Linked DNA regions of Homo sapiens. The protein of the gene in region 1 purifies or fractionates together with the protein of each later gene. This does not show direct contact. Each region holds a gene or a part of one and is shown on either strand. Other genes may lie near its edges. The genes, in order: GFM2 and SLX4.

Evidence for each region.
Region 2: the proteins of GFM2 (region 1) and SLX4 purify together in Homo sapiens (co-immunoprecipitation; one large-scale study listed by IntAct). This does not show direct contact.

The regions. Positions count from the first base shown.
Region 1 is NC_000005.10:74,760,398-74,764,212, reverse strand, and holds part of GFM2 (ribosome-releasing factor 2, mitochondrial), read left to right. Parts: intron 1-446; coding exon of another isoform or gene 447-470; coding exon 471-533; intron 534-3,226; coding exon 3,227-3,311; intron 3,312-3,815.
Region 2 is NC_000016.10:3,594,607-3,598,421, forward strand, and holds part of SLX4 (structure-specific endonuclease subunit SLX4), read right to left. Parts: exon of another isoform or gene 3,555-3,815; coding exon of another isoform or gene 3,394-3,554; coding exon 3,191-3,393; intron 3,090-3,190; coding exon 2,773-3,089; intron 1,788-2,772; coding exon 1,547-1,787; intron 1,088-1,546; coding exon 999-1,087; intron 1-998. UniProt on the Homo sapiens protein: Regulatory subunit that interacts with and increases the activity of different structure-specific endonucleases.

The DNA.
Region 1 (3,815 bases):
ATTTAGTTTTTACATGGTATGGTAGGAAAATCAGAGTATACAAATGAATCAATAAATTTTACTGCCAATTAGAAATTACCAAGTTAATATGTGGATGCTTAGCTTTTTATGCTTAATTCTATACATTTACATAACAATGCATTTTGGTTGATACAATGTTTTGTAATTTCAATAAGTTGATTTCTACTGTATCGCCATATCTTTCTTTAAACATTACATTGACAAATAAGGGACATTTTAAACCTAAAAACCATATTTCTCATATTTAATCAGAATTTTCCATTTTCTGAATGATGCATTGAATTTTTGGTAGCTAAAAATATTGTTCCAACTTTTTAAAAGTAATACATTTTACCATACATATTACATATGTCTAACTTACATATGCCTTGCTGACATGTAATACATAAGTTTAGTTTTTTGATTTTGTATATTTATTTTTTCAGACAGTAACAGTTTGGAGGATCAAGATGTTGACCAACTTGAGGATATTTGCAATGAGTCATCAGACAATACCCAGTGTGTATATTAATGTAAGCATTTCTTATAAAATTAAGTGTCCTTTAACAACCTCAGCTCCTTTACTGCCTAAAATGCCCAGTATATCTCATCAGCTGTTGATTCCAAATTTAGTTGAGTCATAACCTTTGGAAATCTTCAAGCTAAACTAATTTGAAAGTAATTACCTTAATTTATTAAGAAATATAAGAGGAAATTACCTTAATTTAAAAGTAAAAGAACAGCTGTAGCTAAATACTGGTCTCATGGAGTACTAAAATGCCAGTTGTTTTTGAAGGAGGGGTAGGGTTTTATATCTAAGAATGTCATCACTTAATGCACATCTTTAAACTACTAACAAATAATGTGCTTTGTAATATTAAGTATCCATGGATTGAGACTCTTATGAAATAAAGTTTCTGTTAATATCAAAGTACAACATAATTATACAATGGTTGATACAACTACTTTTGGCTGTCTTCTGCAGAGCTGTTGGAAGCCAGCTTCTTCGGCAGTCTGATATTTGTCTCAGGAACATTGTTTTAGTCTTTAGCTCTGGTCTGACTCCTGAATCCTCTTCAAAACACTATAAATTATTTTCTAAACTATCACATCTTCAGTATACTTAAAGATATTAAATCTCAAACATAATAATACCCTTTTTATCTATAGCTAAGTGAGAGATTACTTTAAAGCTTGTTTGGGTTGTTTCTTTTTATCTTCAGTGACTTAACAGGGAGTACAATAGTTTCCCCTTATTCATGGTTTTGCTGTTTAGCTGTTTCAGTTGCTCAGAGTCAACTGTGGTCTGAAAATTAAATGGGAAATTCCAGAAATAATTCATAAGTTTTAAATTGTGTGCCATTCTGAGTACTGTGATGAAATCTCATGCCATCCCACTTAATCCCACCTGGGAGGTGAGTCATTCCTTTGCCCAGCATATCCACATTGTATACACTCCCCACCCATGAGTCAGTAGCCATCTGGGTTATCAGATTCACTGTTGTGATACTGCAGTGCTTGTGTTCAAGTAACCTTTATTTTACTTAATCACGGTCCCAGAGCGCAAGAGTAGTGATGCTGGCAATTTGGATGTGCCAAAGAGAAGCCATAAAGTGCTCCCTTTAAGTGAAAAGGTGAACATTCTTGGCTTAATAAGGAAAAAAACAAATCATATGCTGAGGTTGCTAAGATCTATGGTAGGAATGAATCTTCTATCCATGAAATTGTGAAGAAAGAAAAAGACATTTTTGCTAGTTTTACTGTTGCACTTCAAACTACAAAAATTATGGTCACATAACATGATAAGAGCTCAGTTAAGATGGAAAAGGTATTCAGTTTGTGGGCAGAAGACATGAACAGAACCATGTTCTGATTGATAGTAATTAGGTTCTGTACTATCTGAGGTTTCAGGAATCCACTGGGGGTCTTGGAATATAACCCCTGTGGATAGGGTGTGACTGCTGTATGGGAGAACCTGTAACCCTTAAGAAGCCTTACCATTCGTCTACAGTTTTTTTGTTGTTGTTGCTAAGAAGCCTTACCATTCATCTACAATTTTTTTTTGCTACTTTAAAAATCACCTGAGCAGCATTTTGAAGAAGATATATTTCTGTATTCCATTTGTGATCTCATTAAGTGGCCCAAGGAGTTACCCAGTTTTTCTTCAGTGCTTTTATTGCTGACGCTTTCAGACTATGCACGCTGTGATAGACACTGGGTCTTATCCTAGTCATTATGCAGTGGAATTATTTTCTGAGGATAGTAGCTTATTATTGCCAGAAACTTGGTAACTAATGTAGAAATAATATAGATCGCACAGATACGCAGTTCATGAAACAAAAAGCAGATTGTGGTGGCCCTAAATCATTACATACACTAACAATTCCAACTACATTGGCAGCTATTAAATGTATATCTAGTGGTCTGGGCATAAACTGAGGTGGAGAATATTCAGCCTTTACATGAGAACATGAGAAGGTTAGGTAAGCAGCTAAGGTAGAGGAGGTAGGCTTGGCCTTAAGCAGACCTGCTCTAACTCAGTGATTCTCAGTTGAATGCTACATTGGAGACACCCTGGGAATTTTTTTTAAATGCCACTGCCCAGTTCCTCCAGTTCTCATTTTCTCTCCCCACCCCCGTGTCTTCAAGAAGCTTTCCAGATGATTCTAATGTGTAACTGTAATAAATCCTGAAAACAACTAATGGTTTTAGAGTTCATTGCCCCCTACAGACCTTTCAGCAGATGTAGAGGAAAACCAAGGTGTATCCTGGGTGAGATACCTTATTTAACCTTTCTGACTCAGCTTCTGACTTTCAGAACTTTAGGGTTGTGGTTCTCAATCTGTAGCTATTAGAATCAACTGGAGAGCTAGTTTAAACAGATTGTTTGGCTCCATCCCCAAGAGTTTCTGATTCTCTTGTCTGGATTGGAGCCTAAGCATGTTTTTCAAACAAGCCCTCAGCCCATGCTAATGCTGCAGGTTGAGGAAAACCATTGTTTTAAGGTCAGCTCAAAATAGCAAATCAGTATTAATTTTATCCTTATTCTTTCCCCTAGGATATATTTGGATTGTCACTTTTTAAAAGAATTGGAGTTAATAAATTAGGACTACTTTAAAGCTATACAAAATATTTTATCTTCTGACAAAGCGTAATTACAATATTAACACTGTAATAAGTGATGCTAAAATAAAATTAATGCCAAGTTTCTTTTTCTCTTTACTAGAATATATGCTGCTATAAAATAAGAGCAAGTTTAAAAAGATTAAAGCCACATGTGCCGCTTGGAAGAAATTGCAGTTCTCTACCAGGTACAAATGTTAGAGTCTTCTAATTTTATCTAAGCTGTTTGCTTTATCTCTTTTCTCTCTCTTGTTTGCAAGAATCTCCCTTATTAGGGCTCTGTAACCATTTTTTACTTCTTGGCTATTTCCTTGAGATTATTAGGGGCGGGAGTGTTCAGATAGGTGCCAGAAGGAAATACTAGTAGAGTTGTGCTCCTTATCTGAGGAACACGCTGATGAACTGAGCAAAGGAAAGGTTGGTGGCTTTAGTAGCTAGTTTGCAAGTTTAACATGTGAGTGTAATTGTAGAGTGCTCTTGTGAATTTCTTTTTCTAGTTTATTTCTGTTTTTTATGCAAGTGTTTTCTGTCAAGAGAGATTTACTAGAATAATTTATTTTGAGGATTGTTATAAGTAGTTTGGCTAAGTATTTGGGATTGTTTAGGTTAGATACATGGCATCAGAAGCTGGAAGGTGGAGGAGTTGACTTACTTTTGAATGTCCTTTCTGTGTTTGAAACAAGCAAGTGTAT
Region 2 (3,815 bases), on another chromosome or scaffold:
AGGAGGAGAGGAAGAGCCGTCACCTCCCCACCTCTGCTCTGCTAACTGGGCAGTGGGAAGCTCCCCGCATGGAGGTGGCGCTAGGGTGGGCCGGGAGCCAGGACCTGCATTCTCCTTTCCTCTCCAAAACGCTTCCCACGATGGCCTCAACCTCTGAGTGACCCTAAGGCCCTGAGTAGCACAGAAGAGCAAAGCACTAGCTTGTTCCTCTGGCTCTTGCCAGTGGGTTCCCTGGCCCCCGTGGAGATGCCAGACATGGGGCTAGATGTGAACTCACAGTGCTGGCAGCTCCCGCACTGAGTGGGACAGGCTGCGGGATACCTGGGCTTTGAGGAGGTGCACCCATCCCCTGTGACGGACAAGCACCCTGAGTCCAAGCAGCTCGGGGACCTGGCCAAGAGGACAGCCGGGTCCAGTCTGTGATGATGTCCCTAGGCTGGCCTTGGCATGAAGTGCTTGGTTGACACTGACATGCAAATGGGAGGAGGTCCACTCTAGGGAAAAGCCAGTTCCCACCCCGGTTCTTCCCCAGACAGCGCACTGACAGGGAGGCCAGGCCAGGCTGCTCAGCTGTGCTCTGGAGCCCAGGACCCGCACAGAGGGGAGGGAGAGCAAGCCCTTGGTGAGCTCCCAACTACTGAGGAACGAGCAGAGCGTGCCTGGATGGGGCAACCGCGCTGAGAAACTGTGGTCCCTCTACACTCCTGGGACCCAGGACAGGGCAGGCTCTGGGGCCTCAACCCCAAGGTGCCCCATGGAGTCACAGACAGAAAAGGCAGAAGTCTCGTGGCAGAGCCCCCAGAGGGGCGCTGAGGTGGCTGTGGGTCCGTGGCTCTGCTCACGGATGTCAGGATGTGGCAGCCTTCTGGAAAGCAGAGGCCTTGAGAGGCCACTGCACTTGCGTTGGGGGCCAGAGGCCAGCGGTGAGCCAACCCCACCACACACATGGCAAGTGGGATGGCCGGGACCAGAGAGCGCGGGCCAGAGCCAGTTCTTACCAAGGTGCGGCCGCCCCTGTCCGGGTGCTTGTCCTGCGATGGCACCACAAACCCAGTCAGAGGAAGGCCGCCGGGCACCACGTCCAACCCTGAGTGGAGGATTCACAGGTTAAAGGAACGTCACAGCCCAGCCACATCCACCACCAAGAAGACAGCGTTGACCACAGGCTGAGCCAGCCCCTGCGGTGCCTCGGAAGGTGCTTGCTATCCGAGGACACCTTCATGCAAAGCAAACCCGCACACCCTGTCTCACCACCACTCCACCAGGGAGGTAAGAGAAGAGCAAAACAGACAGTTCACCCAGAGGATTCACTCGCTGTGGGCAGACAGCTCTGTCTTTGGTTAAAGTGGAAGGAAAATCATGACAGAGTTGTCTACACCACATTGACCTTTGAGAAAAAATGAAAGCGCCCAGAGGCTGCGTGTTCTCCCACCAGGTCAGAGCTGCCGTCGCGGCGGCACAAGAGCCAGTCCATGGCAGCCTCAGCCGCGGGGAGGGGAGGCCCGGGAGGGCAGGGCTGGCCCTAGAGTCCCACCCAGCATCTCACCTGCAGTCCCTTCCGAGCCAGCCAGGCCCCCACTGCCGGGCCACGGGCTGGCGCTCAGTCCCTCCCTCGCCAGGTCCACGAGGTCCTGCAGGGCCTGGTGCTCCCTCTGGCTGGCCGAAGGCGACGGGCCCCTGGAGCCACAGCCTGCAGTGGGGGTGCCGTGGAGAGCGGGTGACCTTCGCTCGCTCAGCTCTGAGTGCTCAGGTGGCACCAGAGGCGGCACGGGCTCCTGCATAAGGCCCTGAAAGAAGCCAGTAAGGAGAGTGACCACGTGGTCACTGTCATTGACGCACACACTGCAGAAGCCATCACATGTGGTATGCACGGCTGGACCTAAAACTACAGAGCAGGATGTGGGCTGTGGGGACAGACTGTCCCCGGGGCTCCAGCCACAGCCTGGAGCAGTCCTGGGATGCTTTTCCCCAGCACTCATGTCAACATGCTCCTCCTCTGTCACGGCCAAGGCCAGGCCTGTGGCATCTGTTTGCACAAAGGCTTGTCAGAGGCCAGGGGGGCCCAGGCCTGCCGCCCTCCTGAAGTCCTCCAAGCTGCCTCAGGCAGCTGCGTACTGACTGTAGGGCTACCTGCCGCACGACTGTCTGGAGTGTGTGCTCCGAATGCCAGTTTCCGGGCTCCATCTGAGGCATTTTGCCAGTTGCCCTGGGACTCTGTTTTTTTTTTTTTTTTCAAGACAGAGTCTCACTTTGTTGCCCAGGCTGGAGTGTAATGGCACGGTCTCGGCTCACTGCAACTTCCGCCTCCCCGGTTCAAGCGATTCTTCTGCCTCAGTCTCCCAAGTAACTGGGATTACAGGTGTGTGCCACCATGCCTGGCTAATTTTTGTATTCTTAGTAGAGATGGGGTTTCACCATATTAGCCAGGCTGGTCTCGAACTCCTGACCTCGTGATCCGCCCACCTCAGCCTCCCAAAGTGCAGGGATTACGGGCGTGAGCCACTGCGCCCGGCCGGGACTCTGCATTTTCAACAAACTCCAGGAACACACTCTGGTGGACACCAAGGGTCCTCCCTGATCCTACCCAGAGTACCATGTAGTTGCTGGACAGAGAAGAAAGCTGCAGCCACCAAGTGCCCCTCTGGCCTCCTCCCGCCTCTGCCTTTCCTTCCTGGACTTTCCATCACCTGGCTGTGGGTACCCAGTGTTGCAGTTCTGGGATTGCCAACCTCCCCCAAAAGCCTATCCATGTGCCTGAGGGGAGGGACTCACCTGGGCAGGCCGCTGGGGCACGAGAGGAGGGACCAGCCTGGCCGTGTAGAAGTCCTCCATGGCCCAGGCCCCAGTCAGTGCGCTGCCCTCCCACAGAAAGCTCTGCTTGCGTTCAGGTGGAGGAGGACACTGGCCCGCTCTTTCCCACCCTTCCTTTAAAATCCTGCTGGCAGGAAGTGGTGGCGTGCTAGACAATTCCACTTCCTCAGAGAGGAGCAGGGCCACACGGTCCTCTATCTGTCGGCCTGTGGTTTCAGAGTCCTGGACTAACAACAATGGGGGGGATACCGGGGGTTTCTTCTTGCGACTTTTATTCTCTAGAGAGAAACAAAAGCGACACCATCAACGGTGGAGTCGGTCCACTCACCCGGGACCTGCTGATGGCCTCTCCCAGGGTCACTCTTCTGATCACACAAACCTGCTTCTGGTCTTATCCTCTCAGAAAAGGCACTTTCCAGCCTGAGCGCTGGTACAGCCGCACCCGGCTCCATCTCCGACCGGGACAGAGCCATGGCCACCAGCAGGTCCTCGGACGGTGCCTCGTCCACCTTCCGCCTCTTCCGTGGCTCCTTCTTGCTGGTGGGTCCTCTCCGTTTCAGACCTCTACTGTGATCACTGAAGCTAGAAAACAGCCAAAGAGAAAAGTTACTGGGGCTAGAGGAGTGCACGCTTCTCAGGTTGGTCACACTGGTCTGGAGAGGGCTGGGCCTGAGAGAAAAGTGACGGATGTGGACCTGCCAGGCAGATGCGTCCCCCACTTCCACTGCCTTGTGTGAACTCATTCAATTCCAGGCCAGAAGTTCAACATGGCCCAGGCACAGGAGGGTCTGGGTTCCTTCACGTGCTGCTGTCCAGCAGGCTCATGGCAGATGTACGGAGCCATCTGTGGTACCTGCACATCCTCATGTGGCCAAGCCCATCCAATGGAGTCAACAATCGATGGCTCTGAGCAGGCTCCCTGGACTCCCACCACCTTCACCCATCAATACTTCCGATGCTCCTTACACGGTCCTGGCCACACCGGCAGAAAAGGATCCCTTCCC